7 linked regions of the Homo sapiens genome follow. The protein of the gene in region 1 interacts with the protein of each later gene in a biochemical or structural test. Each region holds a gene or a part of one and is shown in the gene's direction. Other genes may lie near its edges.

Region 1 (4,475 bases):
GCCCTGGAGTTGGACCTGGGCCCACATGGGTGGGTGAGGTGGGCTTTTCTGAGTTAGGCCAGCCCCCTCCCCCTCCCCTGACCCCAGAATGGAGGGAGGTGGGAGGGGCAAGGGCTGGCTGTGGGCCCAGGCCTGGGAGATGAGGTAACGTCTGGGACTGGGGGGCTGGGCTGCTCAGGCTGACTCACCCCCACCTCATGCAGGGTCCAGCCCCCTGGCTTTTTCCCTCCTTGGTTCCTCTGGCCTTACCCTGCCCCTGGCTTGAGCCCCTCCCTGCCTCTCTCCAGCCACCCGCCCAGCGCTGTCTTCTGCTCTCCTGCTGCCCTCCCCACGCTCTGAACACCCCTCATCCTCTGTGCTTCCTGCCCTCCTCACTCTGGGAAGGGAAGCCGTCCCCGCCCCCCACCCCCTCTCCAGGAGCCAGCTAGCTGCACCCCAAGACCCCCACCTCGGGCTCAGCCCACAGCTCCCAGGAGCCAGCCCTGTGGGCAGGGAGTGGCTGGGCCAGGTTTCCCTTCTACTGACTCACCATGACCTTGAGTAAGTCACTTCCCCTCTGGGGTGTCACTTCCCCATACACAGTATAAGGGGTTGATTTAGTTGGATTGAACTAAAGGTGAGGGAGTGGCTCAGGGTGTCTCCAGGTGGGCTGACCCCTCAGTTGGGCCCCCATGCTCAGCAGAGGTGGCCCACAGTGGTGGAGCCTTAGGGTCAGAGACACTTCCTGGCTCTGCCTCTTACTAGCTGGGTGACTTGAGGCAAGTTGTTTAACCTCTCTGTGTACATTTGCAAGTGCAAAATGGGTAAAATCCCAGATTACTCCACAAGGTTGTTGGAAGATTCAGTGTCAATATGTAGCATAGTTGGTGCTCAATAAACTGAAGCAAGTCTTCTTATCTAGCGAGTGAGGAAGGGGCCGCCGAGCTCTCTTAGCCTTCTGACCTCCTACGCAAGCAAGAGGTCATGTTGAGCCCAGCTCGCCTTTCTTTTCCCAGTGCTGTCAAGCTCTGTGCCTGGCTGCCCTGCCCTCTGACATCTCTCTGAAACCTCTTGCCTCCCCTCTCCCTGCCTCAGCTCAGTCTGTGCACTGACCCACCTGAGGAGCCTCCTGGGGCCACTGGCAGCCTGGACCCCCCCAGATCCCCCCCACCCAGTGAAATTGTCTTCCAGCACTGCCTCACAAAAGCCTACTTGATGCAGTGCCAGGCCTCTTGCCAGATGGCTGGGTGGTCCCTTAGGCTTGGACCCAGTCAAGCTGCCCTGCCTGTGTTGCTGGGGCTGGGCTAGAGGCCTGGAAGGGGTTTATCAGGGTCACCCTCTCAGGGCCTGGGAGATACCCAATCCCAGACATTAAAACTGCCAGTAGCCCCTCTACCTTCAAAGCCAAGTCCTGGTCCCTTCCCCTGGCATTCAAAGCCATCGTAAGTGAACTCTCACCCGCTAGGCAGCACACGCCATTCTCCTTTACCGAGGCCCACCGCTTCCTCAAAGTCATTCCTGATGGTCTCAGCTCATGCTGGTGGCAGCCATTTCTCCCAGCCTACTGTCTCTACTCATTGCCACAGGAACCAGGGACTCCCAGCTCAAGAGCCTGAAGGATTGGGGTCAGGGGAAATTGGCAGTCGAGGGCTTGGGAGTGACAGCCATGTATGGCCTACGAAGTCCCAGCTGTCAACTTAGGTCCCATTCAGGCAGTGTTCACAGGGAACCGGGAGATAACAGGGCCTGTTCCTGGCTCTCAAAGGGTCCCAGCAGACCCCTATAGATGGCCCCCGACAGGGTGCTGGGGGGTGAGAGGTCCATAAGAGCCCCCGGTGGTTTCGGGGAGGAAGCTGCCCCCTGCATGGGCCAGAGGGCATATCTGGTAGGTGGAGTGGCCTGGGCAGGAGGCCAGCAGGAGCCTCAAAAGGCAATGGTCCTCCTGAAACACTTGGGCTTTAGCCTGAGCGTGGCTGTTTGTGGACATCATAGCAATTTCTGGACTGTGGGGGAGGGTGGTGGCGGTGAATAGATAAGCATCGTGACTGGGGAAGCTCAGGTGAGCACCACCTGAGGGAGAGGGTCTGGCAGTGAATAAATAAGCAGTGTGACTGGGAAATTGTGAAGCTCAGGTGAGCGCCACCACCTCCTGGGTTGCTTTAGTGTCCAGCAGCTGCCTAGAACTATGTTGAATGAAGAGCTCTCTGGGTTCTGGAAGTGGGACAGCTTTGGGTGGGGCAGTGTTACCACCGTCAGCCTGGCTTGGGTCTGCAGGGTCCAGGGCCTCGGTCACTTTGCTTCTCTCTCCACAGCTCACTCCTGGGGGCAAAGCGGCGCAGGCCGGAGTGGCCGTGGGTGACTGGGTGCTGAGCATCGATGGCGAGAATGCGGGTAGCCTCACACACATCGAAGCTCAGAACAAGATCCGGGCCTGCGGGGAGCGCCTCAGCCTGGGCCTCAGCAGGTATGCGGGTGGACATGGATGGGTGCGCCCGCGCTGGCAGTGGGGATCCCTGCGGGCCCGGCCCGCTGTCACGCTTTCCTTCTCCTCCAGGGCCCAGCCGGTTCAGAGCAAACCGCAGAAGGTACGAGGCTGGCCGGGACATCCGGGCGGTGGGCGGTGTGGGCTTGGACGGCCAGGCCTGCTCGCCCTCCTGGCACATTCTCGGTACCCCAATCCCTGGCCGGGAGTGGAGGGCAGAAACCGGAGCTAAGGCGGGTCTAGGGCCCTGGAGTTGAGCCAGGGGCTGCTGCACGGTCCTGGCACCACGCATGTCCGCCTGTCTGTCCGCCTGTCTGTCCGCCTGCTGCCTCCCGCCGCCGGCGCTGCGTGCTCGCCCGCACTCGGTCAGCCCTCGGTCCTGCGTGGACTGAGATCGCCACTCCCAAATGGGCCCCTTGAAACCTGAGTCGTCCTCTCCCCGTAGCCTCCAAATAGATGTAGGGGGTGGGGTGGGGGTGGGGGGCTGGAGCTGCCGCTGTCCTCTGCTGCAGGCGCCCCACTTCCACCCAGGCCCCCACCTTACCCTGCCCGCCCGCCCTGCCCGGCTGTGTCTCTGCCCAGGCCTCCGCCCCCGCCGCGGACCCTCCGCGGTACACCTTTGCACCCAGCGTCTCCCTCAACAAGACGGCCCGGCCCTTTGGGGCGCCCCCGCCCGCTGACAGCGCCCCGCAGCAGAATGGGTACGTCGGCCCCTGCCCGCCCGCGCCCACGCCATCAGGCCCACTGTGGCCCCACGCCCGCTGCCCGCTGCTGCTCAGTCTGTGCTGCGCCCCAGCCCGGCGGAACCGTGCGGCAGCGCCCCCTGGCGGCCGGGGTGGGGCTGCAGGCACAGGGCCCCTCCCGAGGCTGTGGCGCCTTGCAGGGCACCGCCCTGGGGAGGGGTCTCTGAATGACGCCGCGCCCCCTGCTGGCGGCTGGGGGTTGGGTTGTGGTGTCGGGCCAGCTGAGCCCCAGACACTCAGTGCCGCCTTGTCCCCGGCTGTTCTGACCCCTCCCCGTCTTTCTTCCTCTCCTGTGTCTGTCCCTTTGTCCCTTTATCTGTCTGTCTGTCTTATTTCCTTCACAGGTGCAGACCCCTGACAAGTCAGTGAGCCCCCCTCTGCCTGTGCCTTTCTTCTTCCTTTTGGCACTCTGGGTGGCGGCCCCTCCCCACCCTGGCTGCCCTCCTCTCCACTTCGCCCTCCTGTCCTCTCACCTACCCGCCCAGCAGGGCTCCTGGCCTCACCCTTACCCACTCCCTCCCATCACTGTAACCCAAACCCACATGCACCAAATCCTGGGAGGGGCTGCCCCCACCGCCCACCCCCAGTGTGGGGTTCTGAGCCACACCCTCCCCACAGACAGCCGCTCCGACCGCTGGTCCCAGATGCCAGCAAGCAGCGGCTGATGGAGAACACAGAGGACTGGCGGCCGCGGCCGGGGACAGGCCAGTCGCGTTCCTTCCGCATCCTTGCCCACCTCACAGGCACCGAGTTCAGTAAGTGCCAGCCCAGGGCAGGGGGTACTTTCCTCGCCCCCAGCCCAGGCGTGATCCCTGACCCTGTGTCTTTTTTGGTCAATGCCTGCCTCTGCCCTCTCAGTGCAAGACCCGGATGAGGAGCACCTGAAGAAATCAAGGTACAGGGACGGGCACCAGCCCCTCTCCCACCTCCTGCCTCTTCCATTCCAGCTACTGCCCTGTGTCTACTCCTGAGGCTCCCAGCTGGGGCTCTCAATTCTCCCTTCCTTCCTTCCTTCCTTCCTTCCTTCCTTCCTTCCTTCCTTCCTTCCTTCCCTTCCTCCTTCCTTCCTTCTTTCATTTCTTCCCTCCCTCCTTCCTTCCCTCCTCCCTCCCTGCCTCCCTTCCATCTCTCCTTCCTTCCACTTCTTCCTCCCTCTCTCTCTGCCCCTCAGGGAAAAGTATGTCCTGGAGCTGCAGAGCCCACGCTACACCCGCCTCCGGGACTGGCACCACCAGCGCTCTGCCCACGTGCTCAACGTGCAGTCGTAGCCC
Region 2 (4,475 bases), about 150 Mb from region 1:
GACACTCCTGAGGGGAGCGGGAGTGGCCGCCTTCGTGGTTGGTCACAGGACACGTAGCCTCTGCAGTCCAAAGGGACACAACCCAAAAAAGCGTGTGAGCCTGCGAACCGAAGGACCAGGGCAGACGCTGACTAAAGCAGCACATCGGCTGGGGAAGCCAGGCTTCGGGACCCCACACTAGAAGAAGCCACAGGAGAGATGACATCCTTCAGATCTGCCTCCAGCAAAGCAAGAATATGACGTCCTGGACAACTTCTCAGCCTTTGTCTCTAGCATCTGGCCACAAATCTGTGAAAACTGCTATGGAAATGGATAGAGAAGAAGAAAATTGTCAGTCCCACAGACTAGCGCTTTAGATGCTCTCGTGTGCAAGCCTGTGGTTTTGTTCTTGGGGAAAGCCATTCAAGTATTTCTGAGTATGATACGGCAGATCCCACCTTTGGAAACTAGTGAGACTAAAGATGTCATTATCTGGCCGGGCATGGTGGCTCATGCTTGTAATCCCGGCACTTTGGGAGGCTAAGGCAGGCGAATCACTTGAGGTCAGGATTCACCTTATCTCGTATTTCATATTTACAAATTTCATGAGTACAGGTTTTCTGTTCATTTTGTTTTCCTGTGTCTTTAAGCTCAAGCATTAGAAAACAATATAGCAAGACTGATTTCTTTGAGTAAGGTTATTACAGAACAAGCATTTGAATAATAAAGAATTTTTTTTTTTTTAACAGGGTCTAGCTCTGTCACCCAGGCTGGAGTGCAGTGTCACAATCTCTGCTCACTGCAATCTCTGCCTCCCAGGTTCAAGTGAATCTGGTGTCTCAGCCTCCTAAGCAGCCCAAGGTGGGTGGACCACCTGAGGTCAGGAGTTAGAGACCAGCCTGGCCAACATGGTGAAACCCCGTCTCTACTAAAAATATGTTAGCTGGGCATTGTGGTGCATGCCTGTAATCCCAGCTACTCAGGAGGCTGAGGCAGGAGAGTCACTTGAACCCAGGAGGCGGAGGTTGCAGTGAGCCAGGACCACACCACTGCACTCCAGCCTGGGGTCAGAGAAGGCTCCATCTAAAAAAAAAAAAAAAAAAAAAAAAAAAAAACATATAAAATGTTCATTATATGGCAAAATTTATAAGCAAATTCAAAAGTAAGTGATTAGAAGATATTTACAATATATTTAATAAACAAAGGGTTGATATCCAGAATAGGCAGGGTACCGTGGCTCACACCTGTAATCCCAGCACTTTGGAGACCAAGGTGGGCAGATCACTTGAGCCCAGGAGTTCAAGACCGGTCTGGGCCACATGACGAGACTCCACCTCTACAAAAAATACAGAAATTACTCGGGTGTGGCGGCACGCACCTATAGTCCCAGCTACTCAGGAGCTGAGGTGGGAGAATCATTTGAGCCCAGGAGGTCGAGGCTGTGGTGAGCCATGGTTGTGCCACAGCACTCCAGCCTGGGTGACAGAGGGAGACCTTGTCTCAAAAAAAAACAATCAATCAATCAATCAATCAATCCAGAATATATGAAGAACTATATAATTCAGTAAGAAAAATACAAGAGAGAAAGTTTGGGTAAAGAAAGCAATAGCAAATGGACAGAAGTTAAAACCTAGGTGGCCAAGAAACACAGGAAGATGCTCAAACTTAAATGTATTGGATGAAAATTAGAAATATTATAAATCATTCTTTTAATCTATCAAGTTGGCCAAAAATAAAAAATCTCATACTATGATGTGTTGGCAAGGATGTGGAGAAAGGAAAACACATTTTTTTTCTCGTGCAAGTATCTACTGGTTAATCTTTAAGGAAAATTTTAGCAGTGCTTACGAAAATGGAAGCTATGAAACAATTTAAATTTCTATCTGTAGCAGAATAAAATATATTCATCTAAAGGAAAGCTAAATAGCAGTTGAAAAAATAAATTACACCTCTCTCTATATACTAACTGGGACCGGCTCAAAAACAGTGTTGAATGAAAAAAAGCCAAATGCAGATTGTGCACTGTGTGACACCAATTCATGGTAAGCATAAGGAACCTAAGAATGTGTTCAACAAAAGCTATGCAAGACCTTTTTGGGAAAAAGCATAAAAGCTTTCTAAAGGACAATTTTAAAAAATCTATGAGTAAATGGAGAGAGAGACATATCCTGCTCAAATCTGTTAAGATTCAGTTTGGCCTCATGTAATAGGAAATCCAAAATAGCAGTGGTTTAAACGAGAGAATTTATTTCTCTCTTGTGTAAAAAGTCCAAAAGCTGGCAAACCTCTGCTTTGTACAACACTGAATGTTTCCTAAAGGAGCAGTCCCCAAGCTTTTTGGCACCAGGGACTGGTTTTGTGGAAGACAATTTTTCCATGGTGAGGGTTTGGGTGGGGGATGGTTTCAGGATGATTCAGGTGCATTACATTTATTGTATACTTTATTTCTGTTATTACATTTTAATATATAATGAAATAATTATACAACTCACCATCACGTAGAATCTGTGGGAGCCCTGAGCTTGTTTTCTTGCAACCAGGCATCCCATCTGGGGGTGATGGGAGACAATGACAGATCATCAGGCATTAGATTCTCATAAGGAACATGCAACCTAGATCCCTCGCATATGCAGTTCACAATAGGGTTCACACTCACGTGAGAATCTAATGCTGCTGCTGATCTGACAGGAGGCAGAGCTCAGGTGGTAGTGTGAGTGACGGTGAGAGGCTGTGAACAGAGGAAGCTTTGCTCACTCACCCACTGCTCACCTGCTGTGCAGCCCTCCTGCCACCAGTCTGTGGCCCAAGGGTTGAGGACCCCTGTCCTAGAAGACTTTCCTCTACTTCATCTCATTCAGTCCTTCTAACAACCTAGTAAGATAACAAGACAGATATCATCATCACCATTTTGCAGATGAGAAAACTGGAGTTTGGAGAAATCTGTAACTTGCCTGAAGTCACAGATTTGAGACCAAACCCAGTCTGATTGCTCCTTCAGTGTGCGTCAGGCTGTTCTGGTTGCCTGGAACCTCCCATGTCCTGAAGCCCAGGTGAACACTCACAAAATTCTTTTGTTTCACATAACCTGAAGGCCTTCGGTTAATATGCTAGAATAGGACATTGGGTACTAAGTTAACACAAATATAATTGGTTCTTTGGTCCTTCCAAAAATGTATCTATCTCAAGAAAAGCAAGGACTAGGGACCAAATCATTTTCCTGGGGCCCACTACAGGGCTGATATTGGTGAGGTCTCTCTTCTAATGTAACTAACTGCCTCTATCATTTACCACAGAAAATGTTTTTGTCCTTGTGTGGGCTGGATTTCTTCCAAGCTGTATTTTTATCACATAATATTTATTTCAATAATTTCAATAACGACTTTCAGTAATTTAGGATGAAATCGATACATCTGCTCAGTCTTTTGAGGTCTAATCAAAATTTCTGAGAAAATTTTTTTCACACTTGGGACTTTTTCTTTCAATGCCATTTTTTTTCCATAAGATGCCTCCATAGCTGGTGTACCTTTAGAAGTATATGTGTGAGAACGTAAATGGAGGGTTTACACTTGCATTTTTTTCAAAGCTCATACAAAGCTAGACAAAGCTATAATGTGAACATGCTAAACTCTGTAAGTAAGTAGTCCCCATGGTCACTAATGAGCACATAATCACTGATTCTCAGAACTTGCATATATCAGCCAGAATCTGTTAACAATTAGAAGCTGACAGCCTGGGCAACATGGCAAGACCCCATCTCTACCAAAAATATAAAAAAAAAAGCTGTGCATGGTGGTGTATGCCTGTGGTAGCAGCTACTCTGAAGGCTGAGGTGAGAGGATCGCTTGAGCCCAGTGAGGCGGAGGCTGCAGCGAGCCAAAACTGTACCACTGCACTCCAGCCTGGGTGACAGTGTGAGGCCGTCTCAACAACAACAAAAAAAGTTGAACCTGCTTTTCTGTGTTTACTGGCTGTTTGGAGTTCAGCTGTTGATTTCCTTACCCCAACTTTATTTTGTGTTATTCTTGTTGACTTGTAGCTCTTTAGTCTGGATGTTAACCATTTGTTGATTAAATACATAGAGAGTATCTTCCCCTTGTCAGTTTATTTTTATCTTACAGATTATGTTTGGAGGGGCGGCAGGAGGGCTAGAGTTGCACTGTTTTCTGTAGACCAGTTTACTTTTATGGATATATGCTTTTTGTGTTCTAAGAAATATTTCTCTATTCAATAATATATTATTTAGATATTTTTATCACTTAAAAGTTTTTAGTTTACTTAGGATTTTTGAATACTATGAAACTGCCAAGCTATTAATTATTCTGTGTTTATTCTCGTAGGTGGTGCGGCTGAACAAGCTGGAATAATAGAAGCTGGAGATGAAATTCTTGCTATTAATGGGAAACCTCTGGTTGGGCTCATGCACTTTGATGCCTGGAATATTATGAAGTCTGTCCCAGAAGGACCTGTGCAGTTATTAATTAGAAAGCATAGGAATT
Region 3 (4,475 bases), on another chromosome or scaffold:
GGTGTGTGCCACCACGCCTGGCTAAATTTTTTGTATTTTTAGTAGAGGTTTTCACCATGTTGGCCAGACTGGTTTTGAACTTCTGATCTCAAGTGATCCATCCGCCTCCACCTCCCAAAGTGTTAGGATTACAGGCGTGAGCCACTGCACCCAGCCAGGAGCCCATACTCTTAACCAGCCATGACCTTTTGTAACCTCCTGACCTACTGGTAAGGTGCATGTGGAGGACATCTAAAAACATTAAGTATCTATGTTCCTCATTCATTATTTGTTCCACAATGATGCTAAGAAGAAAAATAGAATAACCTCTGACTGTTTAAAGAGCAGCAGTTAGTGAGATGGCTGAGCAAATGAGACAAAGTGAGCCCACCTGGAGCCTCCCTGCAGCTCCTCTTTCCTGTCTTTCATTCCACGGCGATTGACCAGATGGATTCTGGCCATACATAAAAGCTCATCTCAGCCTCCTACAGCCAGTTCCATTTTCACGCCACCATAAAGCAGAAGCACTTGCAGGCAGGGAGAACCAAAGGTCAGGATGGCCACCTGAGTCTGCTTTCCAAGAGAAAGGATGGTTATGGCGGTCACTGCCTTCCTAGCTCTGCACATCCACAGATGGTCAGGGGCGGACAGAGCTGGCCTCTGCTCTGCAGCTCAGGCTGCGCTCTGCTCCCTTGATGTTGTGTCGTAGGATGTCGTCCCTGGCACTCCGGTCATGCTGGAGTGAAACGGCAGCTACCTTCATGTAATTCTGTTTCGTTGGTCTTTCTGCTCACCTTTGAGCCCTGGCTCAAAACTGTACTTTCAGGAAGTTGATAGCCTCTACTTTTGAAGCAGTCATTGATACCACATCCCCTTTGCCTTTGGCGTTCTGTGATTACTAAGTTAATCTACTGTCTCTCTTTCGTGGATGTTTGGGATATGCCCATACAAGGGTCTTCGCCTCATGGAACCTTGGAAGCCTTGCCTCCTACAGCCAGAGCGGGCGCTTGGTCCTCAGGGAATGCTGAGGCAGGACCATACTCAGGCACACTTAAAATCCTAGGGAGATTTTATCAAGTCTGAGATGCTGTCAGCCGTGAGATGCACCATTGTTTTGTGTCACTAAAAATGGAAGAACAGCCAGGCACGGTGGCTCATGCCTCTAATCCCAGCACTTTCGGAGGTTGAGGCGGGCGGATCACTGGAAGTCAGGAGTTCCATCCTGGCCAACACGGTGAAAACCCATGTCTACTAAAAATACAAAAATTAGCCGGGCATGGTGGCAGACGCCTGTAATCCTAGCTACTCAGAAGCTGAGGCAGGAAAATTGCTTGAACCTGGGAGGTGGAGGTTGCAGTGAGCCAAGATTGCACCGCTGTACTCTAGCCTGGGTGACAGCAAGACACTCCATTTCAAAAAACAACAGGAAGGGAAGAACAGGGCTACCAATTAAATTGTGACTTACCAGTTTTAAAGTTCCAATTTCATGGATTTTAAAATGTGCTTCATAAAACTCTGTACCTGTTTAGTATCCCTTGTCCAAACTTCTTGGGTTCTGAAGTGTCTCATATCTTGGGTTTTTTTGGATTTTGGAATATTGCCAAAATGCTCCAATGAGCATTTCCTTTGAGCTTCATTTTGACACTCAAAAAAAAGTTTCCGATTTTGGAGCATTTCAGATTTTCAGGTTAGGGATGCTTCACCTGTAGTTGGGTGTTCAAGGCATCAGATTTTACACTTTCAGGTTGCAATTCATTAATGAAGGTCGTTTGACTAATTGCCTTCAAAAATTGAATTTTTGACATTTCTCTAGAATTTTTGAAATTTTCTAGAATGGAATTTCTCTAGAAATAATATTCTCGCCAGGCGCGGTGGCTCACGCCTGTAACCTCAGCACTTTGGGAGACCAAGGCAGGTGGATCACGACGAGATCAGGAGTTTGAGACCAGCCCGGCCAATATGGTGAAACCCCATCTCTACTAAAAATACAAAAATTAGCCAGGCTTGGTGGCGTGCGCCTGTAGTCCCAGCTACATGGGAGGCTGAGGCAGAAAAATCACTTGAACCTGGGAGATGGAGGTTGCAGTGAACCAAGATTGTGCCACTGCACTCCAGCCTGGGCGACAGAGTGAGACTCTGTCTCAAAACCAAACAAACAAACAAAAAAGAAATAATATTCTCTGCGATAACCCTGTCAGTAAAATCTGTTGCCAGAAACTTATCTTGTTAAAGTAACTTCTTGATTATATGGAGAAATAAAAGTGAAAGCACGTAATACAGTAGTAGTAAAAGCAAAGCACCTGTGTATTATTAGGAATTCACTCACTAGCCATTTCTGAACTTTCAGTCCTTCAGCTGTGGAAGAGGATGAAGATGAAGATGGTCATACTGTGGTGGCCACAGCCCGAGGCATATTTAACAGCAATGGGGGCGTGCTGAGTTCCATAGAAACTGGTGTTAGTATAATTATCCCTCAAGGAGCCATTCCCGAAGGAGTTGAGCAGGAAATCTATTTCAAGGTCTGCCGGGACAACAGCATCCTTCCACCTTTAGATAAAGAGAAAGGTAAATGTGTTTATTTTTCTCCTTAGTTTTGATAACTTAAGAGTTGCCCTGTGTGCACTTCAGAGCTTATAGTGCTTGGCTAATAATGCAGCACCTCTCTATCTCCAGATGAGTGCTGTAGCGAGGGGTGCCCTGGGGACGGTGTTGCAAGCAAGCAGTGGGTGGCCTGAAGCAAGGCTGTGGTGACCACACTGCCTGCTTTTACTTTTGGTGTGAAATAAAAAATGATGGCATAGGACAGGCCACGGGATGTCTCACCTGCTGAGCAGCCTAGGCTGACCTAACCAAATTTGTCTTTGAATCAGTCAGCCTTTGCGTCTCTGGAGATGGGTTAGGTAACACCCACTCAGAAAGGCTTTGCTGTGCCTTCACCTGATTGGAGAACCTAAACCTCTTGACAGGTACTGTCTTATTCATCACCCCAGAACCTAGCACTAGTACATGCTCAGCAGAGTGCATGAAGGAGTCTCAGAGGAGATGACAGCATGTTTCTGAGCTTCTTAAGGAAACTTATTTTCATAATCCTCCTGGATCTACCAGGATATTATAACGAAGTGTGTTGTGATTTAGCATCTTTTAGCAGTGCTTTTACTTCCTAAACAAATTTAGTTCGCTTTTTTGTATTTTGCCGGAATACTGACATCTGATTCTGTACTCTGATTTTGGGGATATCCTGTTTTAAAAACCAGTAGGACTGACTGTGTTGGCCCTGCATGAATCTCTTTAACCACCTATGGAGCAAACAAAACATTTTGAAAATGGAAAATATATCACATTCGCAACAAGCACATTTGAATATGTTTTTTATTATAGACCCATATGATTGAATGCAGTAGCCACTGCCTGCACGTGGCTAGCTAGCACTTGAAGTGTGACAATTTGGGATTGAAAGATGCTGGAAATGTGAAATACACACCAAGTTCCAAAGATTTCATATATTGATTACATGTTGAAATAACAGTGTTTTCGTTATATTGAGTTAAAATATTAAAATATTGTAAGATTTGATATCACTTGTTTCTTTTTACTTTCTAACGTGGCTACTGGGAAATTTAAGATTCCATATGTGGCTGCTGTTACGTTTTTTTGTGGTCAGTGCGACTGTAGAGAACTAACTCCATTAGGCTTTCAAGCATATAATTAGAAGCAGGGTGAGGAAAACTGGGATTCTAGAAGAAAGACCACATCCATCCTCTCTGCCTATCCCCTTTTCCAACTCCAGGTGAAACACTGCTGAGTCCTTTGGTGATGTGTGGTCCCCATGGCCTCAAGTTCCTGAAGCCTGTGGAGCTGCGCTTACCACACTGTGCGTCCATGACTCCTGACGGTTGGTCTTTTGCTCTAAAATCATCCGACTCCTCGTCGGGTATGCTGTCTTCACTCTGTCCTTTGGGAGCTTTGGGGACTGTCGTTGATTAATACCTGGGCTGATGATGCTGCCCATGCTGTGTGTTAGCAAATCTCTATCTCTGTTCCTGTGGCCTTGTAGGCATCACCAGTGTTTTCACATTTATTTGTGGTGCATATATTGTAAATAAATATGGAAAGGTAGAAGACTTTCTGCCTTTTAAAAATTGATAATTTGGGCCGGGCGCCGTGGCTCATGCCTGTAATCGCAGCACTTTGGGAGGCTGAGGCAAGTGGATTACCTGAGGTCAGGAGTTCAAGACCAGCCTGACCAACATGGTGAAACCCCATCTCTACTAAAAATACAAAAATTAGCCAGGCGTGGTGGCACACACCTGTAATCCCAGCTACTCGGGAGGCTGAGGCAGGAGAATTGCTTGAGCCAGGGAGGCGGAGATTGCAGTGAGCCAAGATCGTGCCACTGCACTCCAGCCTGGGCAACAGAGCGAGACCGTCTCAAAAAAATTTTTTTTTGATAATATGGCCAAATATTGACTATTTCTTGGTGTTCAGAAAAATGATTT
Region 4 (4,475 bases), on another chromosome or scaffold:
CTCTTCCTGTCTGCTTTTTACAGATTGCTTTAGGGTGTGTTGTTTGAAGTTGTCTTCATAAATACTTCCTGTGGACTCCCTTAATTTTTATGTCCGTAACACGCTTCTATGTACTTGACATACGCAGTTCAGCTCTCTCCATTTTTTCCTTGTATCTGCAACAGTTTCACCTGATGAACTACGTCTCAAGTGTCCCTAAATTGTGTACCTGGATATTTCCTTTAAACTGAAAATTCTGTCTCCAGCTGTAGTTCTACTCAATAAATTGAAGGAGCAGATATACCTTGCTTCTTGAGATTATTCTTGAATTATTACATTTTCTTAAACGTTTTCACATTTTAAATGTGGTAGGAGCACTGCATTTAAAGGAACTTTGACATAAGGTTGTTTAAAAAACTTCTATAACTTAAAGCTTACTTTATAAAGGGATTGACATTTATCCCTCTAATGTTAGGCATTTTGGATGTATTATTTAATCATACCCATTTTACAGAGAACACTGAGATTCAGAGGGGGTGATCAGTAATTCGCCTAAGATCACACAGATTCCAACGCGGTTCCATGGTTTTAAAGTCTGTTCATTTCATGCTGCATTCTGCTGCTAATTCAAGTTGTGAAAATACTGTGTTGGATTTTCTTAAAGACACGTCTTCATTTTCAGAGTTTCTATACTGCAAATTTTAGTTGTTTGACTTTCTGGTTAAATTTCTTATTTCTTCAGTAGAGGTTCCATATACTATTCATTCTTTCATCTGTTTCTTTTTTATTTTTGTCTTTCTCTTTAATGAAACATCAGCATTTGTTACCAAACTAACTGGTAAATCTAGCAATGGAAATATAGACTCTTGGCCATCTGTCCAAAATATAATTTGTTTTGGAACTTTCTCTACTTCTTTTACTCTCCAAATTTTTTCTTCCATTTCCCTTGCCCCAACAGACAGGATAGTTGATTAATTACCCCTAACTTGCCAAACCAGAAGTAATAAGGTTTCAGAGGTAGATGTTTGTTGGAAGTGGGGTGGAGTGGTTTCCAAAGGATAGTTATTCCTTTATCCTGTGATAAAAATACGGAGATTGTTCTCTCTGATTCTGAAAACCGTGTAGTGAGCTGCAGCCGCTGAGTCTGTGAGCTTCTAGCTGTTTGCCAGCACTGTACACCTTAAATAATCAAGAGACTGAGTTAACTATTGCAGAGCAGGTACCGGACCCCAGCCAACAAGCTGATGGGATGTGCTGTTCTCACATTTTTTGGTTTTATTTTTTAGTTGCAACTGACAGTGAAGATTCTAGAAGCACCAAATATGGCTCTGGATTTATGCTGTGGGATTTAAGATGCTACAGAACTTGCTCTCCTTCCTTTCTGTCCTGGAGCCACTATGGTATTGGTTGTAGAGCCCAAGTCAGTATAGAGTCTCTGACTTCTACCCTGGGAAAATTTCATTTCCGAAGCTAGTTTGTTTTGAAGTTAATGTTTATTTCCAACATTGAGATTTAATAATTTTGTGTTACTTTTCTTTATTAATTAGTTTTTATACAGTAAATTATAAAAGTAATGATGCACGTAGTAAATTTTATTTTCTTTTTTTGAGATGGAGTCTCGCTCTGTCTCCCAGGCTGGAGTGCAGTGGCACGATCTTGGCTCACTACAACCTCCGCCTCCTGGGTTCAAGTGATTCTCTTGCCTCAGCCTCCCAACAAGCTGGGATTACAAGCATGCACCACCGCGCCTGGCTAATTTGTGTGTGCGTGTGTGTGTGTGTGTGTGTGTGTGTTTTGAGACGGAGTCTCACTCTGTCGCCCAGGCTGGAGTGCAATGGCGCGATCTCGGCTTACTGCAAGCTCCGCCTCCCAGGTTCACGCCATTCTCCTGCCTCAGCCTCCCGAGTAGCTGGGACTACAGACGCCCGGCTAATTTTTTTTTTTTTTTTTGTATTTCTAGTAGAGATGGGGTTTCACCATGTAAGCCAGGATGGTCTTGATCTCCTGACCTCGTGATCCACCCGCCTTGGCCTCCCAAAGTGCTGGGATTACAGGCGTGAGCCACCGCGTCCAGCCTAGTTTTTTATTTTTAGTAGAGACGGGGTTTCACCAGGCTGGTCTCGAACTCCTGACGTCAGGTGATCCACCTGCCTTGGTCTCCCAAAGTGCTGGGATTACAGGCGTGAGCCACTGTGCCCAGCCATACAATTTAAAATATAGGTGATACAAAGATAAGTAGTGAGTCTGTCTCAATTCTCCTACCATCCATATCCCCATTCTCTAGAGGTAACCATTGTTCAGTTTCTTCTCCATCTTTCTGGAAGCTTTTTGTTTAAAAGTGAGATATTTGTATACTATGCTGAAATATTGATTTTTCATGAATAATAGTATATACTTGATGATCTTGTCATATCCATCAATGTATCTGTCTGTCTCTATCTCCTCTTTAGCTGCTGCCCAGTATTCTGTCATATGGATTGTTACTTTGGCTTTGGATTGAGTGCAAGCCAATTGTAATTTTACATTGCTTGAAATGCTGAGCTGGAATTTGGGTGAGAGGTATGGAATGGCAGTGAAGATTTGGGAGTCATCTGTGTGGAAGTAAAACTGAGTGAACAAGTTCTTGGGGGTTGACTGCTCTAGGGCTCGTGGTTTGGAGTATAACTCATAGAGTTAGAAGAATCAGGATAATGGGCTGCACAGAAGTTTAAAAGAGGGGGGAGGATCAATAATGTAAAATGCCAATATACTCTGAGGACTAAGAACACATGTGGCTATAACAGAGAAACAATTTAAAGCACTTATCAAAATGAATATTATGTTTAATAGTCAATTCATGATGTGTCTGAAAAGCTAGGTCTGGCTTCTTTTCTGTGGATACTAGTAATTTTATACTATCTCTCTGTAAATCTATCTCAGAACCAACATATTTAGGGTAAAAACAAAGTAGATTTCTTTTTCACTCTAATTGTGTTTTGCAGATTTCTGATGACTGGCTTTTAGGTAAAATCATTTGGTTTTCCTAAGATTATGTCCTTTTCATTCCCGAGCTTGTGCATGACTGTCAATTAAATGGAAGCCTTTCATGAAGTGACAAAGTAAGTTTTAGATACTTTACATTTACTTTAAGTTCTTGGTATGTGTCAAACCACTGTTATTGTCTTATATCTTTCTACTATAGGAAACTGAATTCTTTCTAGCCTCAAGGATTTTTGTCCACGTTGGATGAATGTAGTACTGTCCTCCTCTTTCACATTTCTTCTCCCATCACCTCCTAACTAAATTTGTTCATTGGCTATTTTTGGTTGTCCACATCCATTCACAATAAGAAACGATTGCTTCGTTGTACATAAGCCAGTTTTTTGGTATCTAAGTGCGTGCTATTTCACTTCAGCTTCTTGTATTCTATTTATTACTGGGCTGTTGTACATTGTTTTTTCTCCCAATCTTTGTGATTTCTTTTAATATACTTTCTTTCCTTTTTGCTTTGTAATCATTGTTTTGAGTATTTGAATCATTTGCAGGTAAGAATGTGGATTGTTCTGTCTCTCATGTAGTTTAATAATATCCAAAATATACTATGTTCAGTCTGTATTTCAGGCTTTTAACACTTAAGTTAGAGTATTTTGGTATATTTAAATCTAGGATAGAAGTACACTGTATTACCATTCAACTACATGCAGATTTTAATGTTTTCTTAAATTAAAGGATGATGATATTCATTCAGTTACAGAGGTCTCTCTCTCTAGTCCTTCCATGGTGTGCAGATTACCATTATACTACTGCTATTTCATAGATTCTAATTTGTGTTTTTAGAAAACATCATCAATTCTTGGCCTTCTTTCTTACCCTTGGTATGTGATTTCCCCTAAAGGTATGGAATGCGGTTGCTCTGTGGCTTGTTAGGCAGCCCCCTTCTGATCTGGTAACCTTTGGGCACAGTGTGGCTATTTTCTCCTTATTTATAAAAGGAATGATAGCTGCTTCACAAACCATTTGTGTGGATTAGTGAATTGTAAAGTGCAGCATAAGTATTTTTTATTTCTAGAATGTCTCTGAGATACTCAAATTACTTTTGGCAGTTATGTACGTAAGTTTCAACAATTTCCAAATGTGCACATTCTCAGTGCTAAACACAGGCTCTATTACATAAATAATATGGTGAAATGAACATTCTTTTCTACCATGTGTGTAAAATTGTTAGTGGTGCTAACTTTTATTCATTGTTCATTTATGTATTCATTTCTAGCTATGAGGTCCTGGGCAAGTTAGTTAGCCTCTCTGACCCTCAGTTTCTTTATCTGTAAAATGTGGTTAATGGTATATACTTTGTAAGGTTGTTGTGAGGATTGAATAGCATGATCTATGTGAAATGTCTAAAGGTTGTTATTTTAATTGCCATTGTCATTATTATTATTTTTTAAATTTTATTATTATTATACTTTAAGTTTTAGGGTACATGTGCACAACGTGCAGGTTTGTTACAAATGTATACA
Region 5 (4,475 bases), on another chromosome or scaffold:
CACTTTACCTTGGTGTGGTGCTTATTAGAATATACATTCTTAGTAGCAGTAAAGGCATTATCATTTTTACTTTCTTACAAAAAATGTAAAAGTCACTGGGAGAGGTGGCTCATGCCTATAATCCCAGCACTTTTGGTGGCTGAGGCAGGAGCATCACGTGAGCTTAGGAGTTCGAGACCTGACTGGGCAACATTGTGAGACTTCATCTCTACCAAAAAACAAAACAAAAAAATTAGCTGGGCATGGTGGCACATACCTATGGTCCCAGCTACTCAGGAGGCTGAGGTGGGTGGATCACTCGATGTTAAACCCAGGAGGTCAAGGCTGTGGTGAGCTGTGTGTAGGCCACTGCTCTCTAGCCTAGGCAACAGAGCAAGACGCTGCCTCCAAAAAGAAGTAAAACTCTATTATGATTCTATATAATTCGTTAGATATTGTGATGAAAGAATAAAATGCCTGAAGTTTTCAAATGTGTTAATGAATACCTCTGTTTTAATAACCTGTGTTTCCCATGAACTATGATGTCACTTGCTTGATTATTAAAGGATTAATTATTATAACATTTCAAAAAAGGATGATAAATCTCTGTTGAGGAACATTTCTGATGAGGAACTATGATTATATTTTAAATTTGTAATTAATATTTTATATGTAGAGTTTGGAATAAATTATACAATACTTTTAATATTTCTTGGTGTAATATGGCTACCTTGTTCCTGTCATTATCTTTTATATGAAAGAAAAAGAGAAATACCTTTTTTTCTCTTTGTTGTGAAAACCTGGTGAGAACTCTTTGTATGTTTTAACTGTATTGTTGTATTCGGGGGTGATAAAGTGAGCACCTATATGCTAGTAAAATTGGGTTATGTTAATGAAATTTTATGTCCCTGCCATCTGCCATCTCTGTCCTTTTGACATTTTATTAACTGGTTAAGATAATATTACTTTTTGTTGCCAAAAATGGTTAAGTTACTTTTATCAGTGAGTTTATTTCCAATGGATTAGTGAAGCTATAAATAGGAATTTGGAAGGTTTACTTGACTCCACTATTGTTTTTAAAAATTCTGTTCACTCTAGGCTATATAATCACTAGTGCTATCTCTCTGAATACTTATATAAACTATCAGAATGGAGGCAGATTTTCTATATTAAATTTTAAATAAAGTTTTAGCTTTTCATTCATCCTCTGTGCACTAAACAAAGTTGAATTTTTAATGAATCGACATAGAGTAAGAGTGAAGAATATAGAAGACCCAATAGTTTGCTGTTTTGGGAAAAAAGAACACAACATTTATAAATTAGCCGACTACAAAATTTAGAAAAAAAAGAAGAGTTATCTTTTGCCAAAAAAAAAACTTTGATTTATATCTAAAGAGGTCTCTTGTATCAAGATTTTTATTCTTCCAGTTTTGTTGCCGAGAAAGTGCAGACCTACTTTTGCTGTTGCTATCCAGTTCATCTTGACAATTTGTCTAGTGGAAACATTCACATGCTGTAGCTTCTAAAGTTAGAATGTGCACAGTATGATCTAAAGGGCAACATACTTTAAACAGAAGATTGTCCCTATTACTTTCTGCATTATCTCAAAAACATATTAAGTTGTCCAGTTACCAATGGAAAATAAATTCCTACATTTGATATTATTAGAAGAACTGATGGAACTGAATACATATATTGTTACACCCACACAAACACATAGACACAACAGAAATACGTATTGGCAATTTAAAAAATAACTTATTCTAGCTAGATGACAATATTATGTATGCTTCATTAATGTTACATTAGAAAAGAAAAAGAATTTTTTATATTGTCATACAACAATTTGGTTACAAACCTACTGTTTTTTTTAAAGAGGTAATTTTATAAAACTATGGTTGAAAATCAAGTGCATCTAGACACCTACATAGTACTGTTACTAATATATGTCAGATTAACCTTATTTAAACCCTGTAAGATAAAAAGTAAGGAGGTCAACCACAGAAATTCAAATGAAATTTAACTAGCTGCGGTATTATTATTCACTTTCATTTGCATATATTAGCAGTTAATGACTAGAGCTTGAAATTTGTCTCAATGATATAGATTTTTCAATGTGTCTTTTATACCAGGGTACATTGATTTTATGTATATATGCTATAGTTGTAGAATGGATCAATGTGACCACATTTGCAGTTAAGAAATGGGTTAGATGAGGTGCATATTTCTAGAATGTTGTGTGTTAAATAGCATGAAATATTTTAGAAAGAAGATTATTAGAAATAAATTGCTCTTGCTTAGTTGTTCAGTGATGCTATCGGCTTTTTGAGTGAATAGATATTTGTGTGACTTTAATATCTAGTTAAACAAGAAGTGTGTTTTTTCTTGTGCATATGGTGTGTGTTGTAAAAGATCCCTATGTAATCATTAAAGTTAGAAATATTTGATGCTTATCATTATTTTAGTTTCTCTGTCATTATGATATCAATCAACTTTAAGCAGTTTTTAGCTAATTGGAAATTGAGAAGAAATCTATCAATTTAAAATGTGCAGATGCATATTTTAAAACAGATTTTTAAAGTAAAGATAATAATTTATTTTCTGTTTTGTGATCAAAGATTTGTTCATTGAACAAATTTAATGGCTCAATTTTTGAATTTCAAATGGTCATGCTGATTTAAACCTGGTGCAACAAGTAAGTTTGTTAACAGTGTAAAGGGTACAAACTAGTTCATATATTATAAAATTATCCGTATGACTTATGCACAATCTGACACATTACTAAATGCTTTGAATTTACTGATATATAACTGAAATAAAAAATAAAAACAATAAGAGATTCTATGGTTTATATATAGTCAAGATATGCTCAAAAATATTTTCTGTAGCTAATTGCTTGATGCACACATACAAGTTTATGAATTGTTTTTAAAAAATAATAAAATTTTCCAAAGTTATTCACTTGAAGAGGAAGTAGACATGTTAAAGGTTTTGTTCTGTTGGTGGTTAAAAAGATTTTATAAACTCTAATAAATAATATATTAGTTATAATAGTTTTGCCACAGTTCAACAAAGGCTAGTAACACGTATTATTTTTTAATATTTGCATTCTATTGATAAAATTCAAGAATAATAAAAGAATAAAAAATTACTGTCATTAGGTAAACCTATGTCATATTTTTCACATAATATAAGGCAAGTTAATTTTTGGAGTCAGTCTCCACAAGCAACTATGTTAACCAGTTTCTAGCTATTTCCACATCCATATTTGTTAAACTATTTATGCTTGTAAATTTTAAAAAATCAGTTGTGATAGTTGAGTTACACTAGGTGTCAAAATATCACTGGAGACTGAAAAGGCAGAAGATATTGTTGAAGGCATTTTGAAACATCACAGAAATTCACATACACCAAGAATTCACCACAGTATACAGCTGAATAAAAGCATGCTGTTTTTCATTCTTTCAAGAATCAAAGGAATCACAGAAAATCCCTGATCCTATCGAAGGTTGGGCACAATTCTGGAAGAAGGCATGACCATTGCTGTAGTTATCATCATGTTAGGATGCCTAAGTGGTATGTGGGAGGGAGTTGAGAAACAAAGTTCACTGTTGCTTTTAGCATCGATTCCTCTATTCTTTCTTTCTTTCTTCTTCTTCTTCTTTTCCTTGTTTTTTCTGGGTTTTTTTTTTTGGAGACAGGATCTTGCTCTGTCACCTAGGCTGGAATGCAGTGGCATGATCACAGCTCACTGCAGCCTCTACCTCTGGGACTCAAGGTATCCTCCAGCCTAAGCCTCCCAAGTAGCTGGGACTACAGGTGCACCCCACCTCACCTGGCTAATTTTTTAAAAATTTTCTGTAGAGATGGGGTTTCACCATGCTGCCCAGGCTGGTCTTGAACTCCTGGGCTCAAGCGACCTGTCCACCTTGACCTCCTGAAATGCTGGGATTACAGGCGTGAGCCATAGTGCCCAGTCTCCTCTCTTATTTCTATGATACTGATAGCAGGCAATGCAACCATAACTCCAGAGTGGGAAAGGGTGGATAATCATTCATGGCTCTTTGTTTACACTTTCTTCTCCCAGCACTCCCCTAACCCCTGCAGCTCCAGGCCAATGTTGTTTGAAACAGTGCTGGAGGCACAGTGCTTCTCTCAACTTCTGGAGACCAGAGTGGGGCTGAAGGTCTGTGGAATCTTTGAGATGAATAGCTCAGAGCACAAAGCAGAGGATTTTTTTTAGTGTATATATTAAAATCTTTTTATTCTATTTTTTACCTTGAAATTCATAATGCAATGCAGCATAAAAGGCATTTTCCTTTTCTTTAGAAATAGTTCCCACATTGGAACATCACACTCTGGGGACTGTTGTGGGGTGGGGGGAGGGGGGAGGGATAGCATTAGGAGATATACCTAATGCTAAATGACGAGTTAATGGGTGCAGCACACCAGCATGGCACATGTATACATATGTAACTAACCTGCACATTGTGCAC
Region 6 (3,874 bases), on another chromosome or scaffold:
TCTGGGGCATTGCCCTAGGAAATGAAAGAATTGTGTATAGAATGGAAGGGGGATCATCAAGGACATGTATCTCAAATTTTCTTTGAGATGCAGGTTAGTTGACCTTGCTGCAGTTCTCCTTCCCATTAATTCATTGGGATGGAAGCCAAAAATAAAAGAGGTGCCTCTGAGGATTAGGGTTGAGCACTCAAGGGAAAGATGGAGTAGAGGGCAAATAGCAAAAGTTGTTGCACTCCTGAAATTCTATTAACATTTCCGCAGAAGATGAGTAGGGAGATGCTGCCTTCCCTTTTGAGATAGTGTAGAAAAACACTAGATAGTGTGAGAGGTTCCTTTCTGTCCACTGAAACAAGGCTAAGGATACTACCAACTACTATCACCATGACCATTGTACTGACAACAATTGAATGCAGTCTCCCTGCAGGGCAGATTATGCCAGGCACTTTACATTTGTTGATCCCATTTGACATTCACACCAAAGCTCTGAGTTCCATTTTACAGCTGAAGAAATTGAAGCTTAGAGAAATTAAGAAGCTTGTTTAAGTTTACACAGCTAGTAAGAGTTTTAAAAATCTCTGTGCAGAAGTGTTGGCTGGGTGCTCTCCCCACCACTACCCTTGTAAACTTCCAGGAAGATTGGTTGAAAGTCTGAATAAAAGCTGTCCTTTCCTACCAATTTCCTCCCCCTCCTCACTCTCACAAGAAAACCAAAAGTTTCTCTTCAGAGTTGTTGACTCATAGTACAGTAAAGGGTGGAGGTGATATGGCATTCTGAAAGTAGGGAGGGACTAAGTCAGTCATCATACTAAACAAAAATCCCAGTACCCTTTCCTTATTTAGCTACCAGAATGATGACAGACAGACTCAAACCCTGTCAAGACAGGACCCTGGAGGATCCTCCTATGGGGAAACTGCATAATCTGAAAAAAAGGCTGACAGATACAAATAGTTGAGGATCCTTCAACACAAAAGCTGCGTGTCTGCCCTATTACTCACCTGACGATGAAGCCCACAATGCAACAAATCCCTTCCACTCACAGCATTTGGTCAACCTGTCAGAGCCTCATTCTTAATTATGAAAAGTAGTCAATGAACACAATACATTTGAGGGAAAGGCCGTAACATGAAAGGCACCAACAAATAAATGTGAGAGTAGATAGAGACCTTTTGAGTATAAAAGATCCTCCAAAATAAGAGATTAAACCAAGATAGAGGAAAACACAGTAGCTGGGAAACAAGGAATCCAACGCAGGAGAAAGTGAAGAGAATTCCCAGGATGTTGGTGTGTAGCAGGCTTAGAAAGCAAGTCATTCATGTTGGAGCAGGACTCTTAAAGGACTCTAGGAGAGATGTCTCCCAGAAAAAGAAGAAATTAATTGATTCATACACATTGAGAGGGATTTAGATTTCTCTTGCAGAGATTGAGATAAACTAGTCGTAAATACATAGAAAAATAAGCAAGTAAAAACGCAATACAGTTTTTAAGTGCTAGAGGAAAAGAAACTTTTGTATTAGAGAGGAAATATAACCACAGTACACTACATGGCTCAGCTGTGAATAATATTTACATAGAGGATAATGTGAATATAATAGTCTCCCATTATCTGTGGTTTTGCTTTCTGCAGTTCAGTTACAGCCAGCCAGTCTGAAAATATTAAATGGAAAATTCCAGAAATAATTCTTAAGTTTTAAAACATGTGCTGTTTTGAGTAGCATGTTGAAATCTCGCACTATCACCCTCCACCCATGTTCTGGGCAGGGCAAAGTGGGATGGTGTGAGATTTCTCCAGTGGATCCACAATGTATATGCTACCCACCCATGAGTCACTTAGTCATCATCCAGTTGCTCAGATCAACTGTTGTGGTATAACAGTGCTTGTGTTAAAGTCACTCTTATTTTACTTACTAATGTCCCCAAAGCATAAGAGTAGTGATGCTGGCAAATAAGATACACCAAAGAGAAGCTGTAAAGTGCTTCCTCTAACAGAAAATGTGAAAGTTCTTGACTTAATAAGGAAAGAAAAAAAACACATGCTGAAGTTGCTAAGATCTACAGTAAGAACAAATCCATCTGTAAAATTGTGAAGAAGGCAAAAGAAATTTGTGCTAGTTTTGCTGTTGCACCACAAGCTGCAAAAATTATTTATTACACCCCACGGTGTGTGATAAACACTTAGTTAAGATGAAAAGGTATTAAATTTGTGGGTGGAAGACATGAACAGAAATGTGTTCCAATTGACAGCAATCGGGTTTGGTACTATTTGGGTTTGGTGCTATTCGTATTCAGGGTCTTGGAATGCAACTCCCACAGATAAGGGGGTGCTGCTGGAGTGAAATACTGTGATATAACCTTTTTTTCAGGAAATGAAGGGAGAAGATGTGTACGTGTGTGGGAGAGGTATAAGAGACCTAGGTTGCCATATTCTATCACAGAAAATGCATAATAACTAAATCTGGAAAATGATGAATAGCTGTACAACCATATTATTTAGCAATAGGAGGTAAATACAGGTAGAAGCAGAAGAAAGAATGGGCAGGGGTTACCTCTATGGAGAAGCTGGGGTGGGAGGATAGGGTGGGGACTTATTTTACGAACTGTGTAATTGCCTAACTTGTGAATATGTATTTCTGAAGTAAAATAAAAATTAAGTTAAAATTAAATTTTAAAATTCAAACTAATTCTGAGTTGTTTTTTAAAACAAAAACAAAAAAAGACAAGAAAGCCCATCAGAAATGGAAACTGAACATTGACAGAAGAAAGGAAAGCAGGAAAGGACCAGAGTTGTATTTCAGTTCTTGAGAGAAGCCCATCTAGTCCTGCCATGGGAGGCAAGTCCTTTCTTGGGGTGAGGAAAGTCACTTTCTGGGGTTAGAGAGATTTTGATATGTTACTTGGGATATTTTTAGTTGCAAGTAACAGAAAACCCTACCCCAAGTGGCTTACATAATAAAGGGATTTGATTATCTCATATAACTGAAATATACCGAGGGAAGTTGGACTTCAGGCCTTGTTCAACCAGGACATCTGTGGGCTTTCCTCCCCAGATGTTGGCTCTGCCACATGGGTGAATCCTCTCATGGAAACAAGCTGACTGCAAGCAGCCTGAGACTACACACTTCCTTATTTGTTTCTAAAGCAAACTAATGAAGAATGGATTACTCTGAATGAGGATGATGACAGTACACACCTAAAGTAGTTGAGGTGAAACCCGCTGAAATCTCATCTGGGAAAGGGGTGAAATGGGGCTTGCAGAGGCCACATATGTACTGCAAATGAGGTGGAGAGAGAGCTGCCAACCAGCTAAGCATCCATGCTGGGTGTGGCATGTAACTGAGCAGGCAGCCGGGCAGCTTTGGAGGGTGGGGGGAAATGCAGGCTCTAGGAAGAAGGGCAAAAGTTAAATTTTGAATTTCGGTTGTGAAGTCGTAGGGATTTTCAATTGTCAATGAGAAACCTTAACAACTTTCCAAGGGCAAAATGGCCCAAATAAAGCTGGGAGTAACAGAGCAACCAAGGTCCTTAGGATGAGCATAAGAGAGGGGTTGTGAATTATTAATGTCTATGGTGTGTGTATGTGAGAGACAGACAGAGACAGAGATGTAATGGCTTACTTTTCCTTTTTCCAGCCAGAGTGAAGCCTCCTATTTGTTGAAATATGTCCTTGGAGAGGAAACAAAATGGAACTCTTTACTTACCATAGCAAAAGCCAAAAGTGTCCTGGGGTTTTGGACACAGCTCTTTTTGTTAGAGTGGGTATTTCCTCAAGCAAGTACATACCTTGTTCAACTGGGAGAAAGGATTTTTGTTGTGTAAACTTTGGTGGAATTATGAGACTGGAACTGTGCTTTCTCACTGGGGACCTAAGAAGCAAAT
Region 7 (4,475 bases), on another chromosome or scaffold:
CAGTGGTACAGAAACAGCACGTGTAGACGGCTCCAGACTACAGAAGGGAGGAGAATGAGCAGCTTTCAGGATCAAAGGAGGATTGTCTTTTATTTATTTATTTATGGAGACAGGGTCTTGATCTGTCACCCAGGCTGGAGCTCAGTGGTGTGATCATGGCTTACTGCAGCCTTGATTTCCCGGGCACAAGAGATCCTCCTACCTCGGCCTCCCAAGTATCTGGTAGCTGGGAATACAAGCGTGCACCACCATATCTGGCTAACTTTTTACTTTTTCTTTTCTTTCTTTTTTTTCTTTTGAGATGGAGTCTGTCTCTGTCACCCAGGCTGGAGTGCAGTGGCGCGATCTCGGCTTACTGCAAGCTCCGCCTCCCGGGTTCACACCATTCTCCTGCCTCAGCCTCCCGAGTAGCTGGGACTACAGGCGCCCGCCATCACGCCCACCTGGCTAATTTTTTTTCTATTTTTAGTAGAGACGGGGTTTCACCGTGTCAGTTGGGATGGTCTCGATCTCCTGACCTTGTGATCCGCCTGCCTCGGCCTCCCAAAGTGCTGGGATTACAGGCATGAGCCACCGCGCCCGGCTGTCTTTCATTTTTTAGAGACAGGGTCTGGTTATGTTGCCCAGGCTGGTCTCCAACTCCTGGCCTCAAGTGATCCTCCCGCCTTGTCCTCCCAAAGCTCTGGGATTATAGGCATGAGCTGCTGTGCCCAGCTTGTTATTTATTTATTTATAGCCTGAGAGAGACTTGAACATTTATATAAGCTGCAGGGAATGGAGAAGTAGATATACTGAAAACCATGCAGGCCGGGCACAGTGGCTCACACCTGTAAACCCAGCACATTGGGAGGCTGAGGCGGGTGGATCACCTGAGGTCAGGAGCTCGAGACTGCCTGGCCAACATGGAGAAACCCTGTCTCTACTAAAAACACAAAACATTAGCTGGTTGTGGTGGCGGGTGCCTGTAATCCCAGCTACTCAGGAGGGTGAGGCAGGAGCGTCGCTTGAACCCGGGAGGCAGAGGTTGCAATGAGCCGAGATCATGCCATTGCACTCCAGCCTGGGCAATAAGAGTGACACTCCATCTCAAAAAAAACAGAAAGAAAAAAGAAAAAGAAAACCATGCATTTACCAGTCATTGATCATGGGCCTATGATGTGCAGGACAGGGGAAACAGCCATGAACAACACAGGCAAGGAGCCTGACTTCACACACCTAACATTACTGCAGGGAAAGAGACAGTAAGCAAGTGGATTAATCAATACACAAGCTATTAAAGATCATGACAGGCCAGGCACGATGGCTCAGACGTGTAATTCCAACACTTTGGGAGGCCGAGGTGGGAGGATCACCTGAGGTCAGGAGTTTGAGACCAGCCTGGCCAACATGGTGAAACCCCATCTCTACAAAAATTACCAAAATGAGCCGGGCGTGGTGGCATTTGCCTATAATCCCAGCTACTTGGGAGGCTGAGTCAGGAGAACTGCTTGAACTCAGGAGGTGGAGGTTGCAGTGAGCCAAGATCCCACCACTGCACAGAGCGACAGAGTGAGCGACAGAGTGAGACTTTCTCTCAAATAATAATAATAATAATAAAATTAAATTAAATTAGCCAAGCACAGTGGCGTGCACCTGTGATCCTGGCTACTCGGAAGGCAGAGGTGGGAGGATCGCTTGAACACAGGAGTTCAAGGCCACAGGGAGCTATGATTGCACCACTGCACTCCAGCCTGGGCAACAGAGCAAGACCCTGACTCCAGAAAAAAAAAGATGATGATGAATAAAGTGGAGGCATAAATAGGGTGAGGTGAGAGTGACGCAACCCACTTTGACAGGGTGGCCAGGAAAGGCTGCCTGATGAGATGATCTTTGAGCTGAAAGCTGAATGACAAGTAGGTGGCAGGAAGAAAGGGGTGGAGACTGGGAATGGTGAGGTGTCTGTGGCCTGGTGATTTGGCCTTGACTACAAAGGGGGCTTTTTTTTTTTTTGAGACAGAGCCTCGCTCTGTCACCAGGCTGGAGTGCAGTGGCACGATCTTGGCTCACTGCAACCTCCGCCTCCCAGGCTCAAGCAATTCTCCTGCCTCAGCCTCCCGAGTAACTGGGATTACAGGCGTTTGCCATCAGATGCTCAGCTAATTTTTGTATTTGTAGTAGAGATGGGGTTTCACCATGTTGGCCAGGCTGGTCTCGAACTCCTAACTTCAGATGATCCACCCACCTTCGCCTCCCAAAGTGCTGGGATGACAGCCGTGAGCCACCGCACCCGGCCGGAAGTGGGCCTCTTCAACCTCTGAGAGCAGAGGATGGAAGGGAAGGATGCGGAGTCTGTTGAGAAGTTTGGAGGTGGATGAGGGTGAGAGAGGCGGGGCCTGACAGCCCCAGTTCAGGCTGAAGTTGCACCCACAAGTCCTCGAGAGAGGGAGACGTGAACGACTCATGGACTCACTCAGCCGCCCAGCCTTGCTTCAGGGTCAGCTCCAGCTGTCAGTGCCCAGAGACAACCAGACCCTCAGCCAACAAGGGAAGGGTCTCATGGAGTATGTGCTTTCAGTGGCTAAACTGTATGACATGTGGGCAATTCGATGGTTTTTAATATATTCACAGGATTGTAACACCCATCACTACCATCCATTTTCAAACAATTTCATCACTCTAACAAGAAATTCTGCACTCCTTAGCCATCACTCCCTATTTCATGGTTTTATTTTCTTATTTATTTATTGAAATGGGGTCTTGATCTGTTGCCCAGACTGTATAGTGCAGTGGCACAATCTTGGCTCACTGCAGCCTCAACTTCCTGAGCTCAAGTGATCCTCTCACTTCAGCCTCACAAGTAGCTGAGACTACAGGCATGCACCACCACATCTGGCTAATTTAAAAAAAATTTGTTTGTAGAAATGGGGTCATGCTATGTTGCCCAGGATGGTCTTGAATTCCTGGTCTCAAACAATCCTCCTGCCTCGATCTCCCTAAGCACTGGGATTACAGGTGTGAACCATTGCCCCCAGCCCTGCCAGGATCTTGCCTCCCACCTACTTTGGGATTTTCTTTTTTCTTTTTTTTTTTTTTTTTTTTGAGATGGAGTTTTTGCTCTTGTTGCCTAGGCTGGAGTACAATGGCAAGATCTCGACTCACTGCAACCTCCGACTCCTGGGTTCAAGCGATTCTCCTGCCTCAGCCTCCCGAGTAGCTGGGATGAATAAAGGCACCCACCACCACGTCTGGCTAATTTTTGTATTTTTAGTAGAGACGGGGTTTCACCATGTTGGCCAGGCTGGTCTCAAACACCTGACCTCAGATGATCCGCCCCCCTTGGCCTCCCAAAGTGCTGGGATTACAGGTGTGAGCCACCGCGCCTGGCTGAGATTTTCCTCTTTGTTTTTGGCCTAGATAGCCAAGAAACTACAAATATCTCCCACATGGATGTACTGCAATTATTTAGCCCCCACTGTCAGATATTTATATTGCTGCCAACGTCTTAGTGTTAGAAATAATACACAGGTGAACCACCTCACTCATACATCATCGTGCATGTGTCTTGTCAGGATGTGTGTAAGATAAATTCCTACATGTGAGATCATTGGGTAGAAGGATGGGCTTTGGACACACTTAACAACCTGCCTTCCAGAAACGTGACCATTTGCATGCTCATTTCCAACATGACCATTTGCATGCTCATTTCCAATGTGCCCATTTGCACACTCGTTTCCAACGTGTGCATTTGCACGCTCGTTTCCACCATGTCTATTTGCATGCTCCTTTCCAACGTGATCATTTGCACACGTTTCCAACGTGTCCATTTGCACGCTCATTTCCAATGGCCACACACTCCTGTGTGCAGATGTGCCTTGATTAGTATCAGCTGGTTTGTGGACAAAGACAAAAGTTTGGAGAGAGAACTGAGGGAGTCAAAATTCAGGGCCAAGCTGACGTGCCAGGACTTTTTTTGTGGAGTCAGAATGTTCTGTGTGGGATCTCTCAGCGCACAGTATGGAAGGGAGTGTAGTATTATAATAATAGTAACTAGCAATTACTGAATGTGTGGTGTGGTTTTAAGCTTTTATATTAATTCCTTTGATCTTTACGATATTTATTAGAACAGCTCTCTTTGGGTTTGAATCCTGACCCTTCACTTTCACCCCGTGACGCCGTCACCTCTACCAGCCTCAGTTTCCTTACATGGAAAATGAAGATGCTGGCCAAGAGAGGTGGCTCACACCTGTAATCCCAGCACCTTGGGAGGCCGTGGTGGAAGGATCACTTGAACCCAAAAGTTTGAGATCAGCCTGGGCAATATAGCAAGACTCCATCTCTATAGAAAAAAAAAATTTAATTAGCCAGTTCTCTTTAAGTAGATGAGGGATTATAAAAAAACAGATTAGCCAAGCATGTAGGCACATACTTGTGGTCCCAGCTACTCGGGAGGCTAAAGAGGGAGGATCACTTGAGCCCAGGAGGTGGAAGCTGCAGTA

The links.
Region 2: the proteins of PDLIM7 (region 1) and PDZD2 interact in a test that uses a peptide from one of them, tested with the Homo sapiens proteins (one large-scale study listed by IntAct).
Region 3: the proteins of PDLIM7 (region 1) and TJP1 interact in a test that uses a peptide from one of them, tested with the Homo sapiens proteins (one large-scale study listed by IntAct).
Region 4: the proteins of PDLIM7 (region 1) and CASK interact in a test that uses a peptide from one of them, tested with the Homo sapiens proteins (one large-scale study listed by IntAct).
Region 5: the proteins of PDLIM7 (region 1) and PDZRN4 interact in a test that uses a peptide from one of them, tested with the Homo sapiens proteins (one large-scale study listed by IntAct).
Region 6: the proteins of PDLIM7 (region 1) and CYSLTR2 interact in a test that uses a peptide from one of them, tested with the Homo sapiens proteins (one large-scale study listed by IntAct).
Region 7: the proteins of PDLIM7 (region 1) and GRID2IP interact in a test that uses a peptide from one of them, tested with the Homo sapiens proteins (one large-scale study listed by IntAct).

Annotation. Positions count from the first base shown.
Region 1 is NC_000005.10:177,490,494-177,494,968, reverse strand, and holds part of PDLIM7 (PDZ and LIM domain protein 7), read left to right. Parts: intron 1-2,291; coding exon 2,292-2,443; intron 2,444-2,533; coding exon 2,534-2,564; intron 2,565-3,043; coding exon 3,044-3,162; intron 3,163-3,548; coding exon of another isoform or gene 3,549-3,565; intron 3,566-3,822; coding exon 3,823-3,959; intron 3,960-4,062; coding exon 4,063-4,099; intron 4,100-4,375; coding exon of another isoform or gene 4,376-4,472; exon of another isoform or gene 4,473-4,475. UniProt on the Homo sapiens protein: May function as a scaffold on which the coordinated assembly of proteins can occur. May play a role as an adapter that, via its PDZ domain, localizes LIM-binding proteins to actin filaments of both skeletal muscle and nonmuscle tissues.
Region 2 is NC_000005.10:32,103,653-32,108,127, forward strand, and holds part of PDZD2 (PDZ domain-containing protein 2), read left to right. Parts: exon of another isoform or gene 1-1,063; intron 1,064-2,471; exon of another isoform or gene 2,472-2,528; intron 2,529-2,635; exon of another isoform or gene 2,636-4,316; coding exon 4,317-4,475.
Region 3 is NC_000015.10:29,703,597-29,708,071, reverse strand, and holds part of TJP1 (tight junction protein 1), read left to right. Parts: intron 1-2,326; coding exon 2,327-2,544; intron 2,545-3,766; coding exon 3,767-3,910; intron 3,911-4,475. UniProt on the Homo sapiens protein: TJP1, TJP2, and TJP3 are closely related scaffolding proteins that link tight junction (TJ) transmembrane proteins such as claudins, junctional adhesion molecules, and occludin to the actin cytoskeleton.
Region 4 is NC_000023.11:41,913,288-41,917,762, reverse strand, and holds part of CASK (peripheral plasma membrane protein CASK), read left to right. Parts: intron 1-4,475. UniProt on the Homo sapiens protein: Multidomain scaffolding Mg(2+)-independent protein kinase that catalyzes the phosphotransfer from ATP to proteins such as NRXN1, and plays a role in synaptic transmembrane protein anchoring and ion channel trafficking.
Region 5 is NC_000012.12:41,194,260-41,198,734, forward strand, and holds part of PDZRN4 (PDZ domain-containing RING finger protein 4), read left to right. Parts: intron 1-4,475.
Region 6 is NC_000013.11:48,708,552-48,712,425, forward strand, and holds the end of CYSLTR2 (cysteinyl leukotriene receptor 2), read left to right. Parts: 3' UTR 1-2,675; downstream 2,676-3,874. UniProt on the Homo sapiens protein: Receptor for cysteinyl leukotrienes. The response is mediated via a G-protein that activates a phosphatidylinositol-calcium second messenger system.
Region 7 is NC_000007.14:6,540,910-6,545,384, reverse strand, and holds part of GRID2IP (delphilin), read left to right. Parts: intron 1-4,475.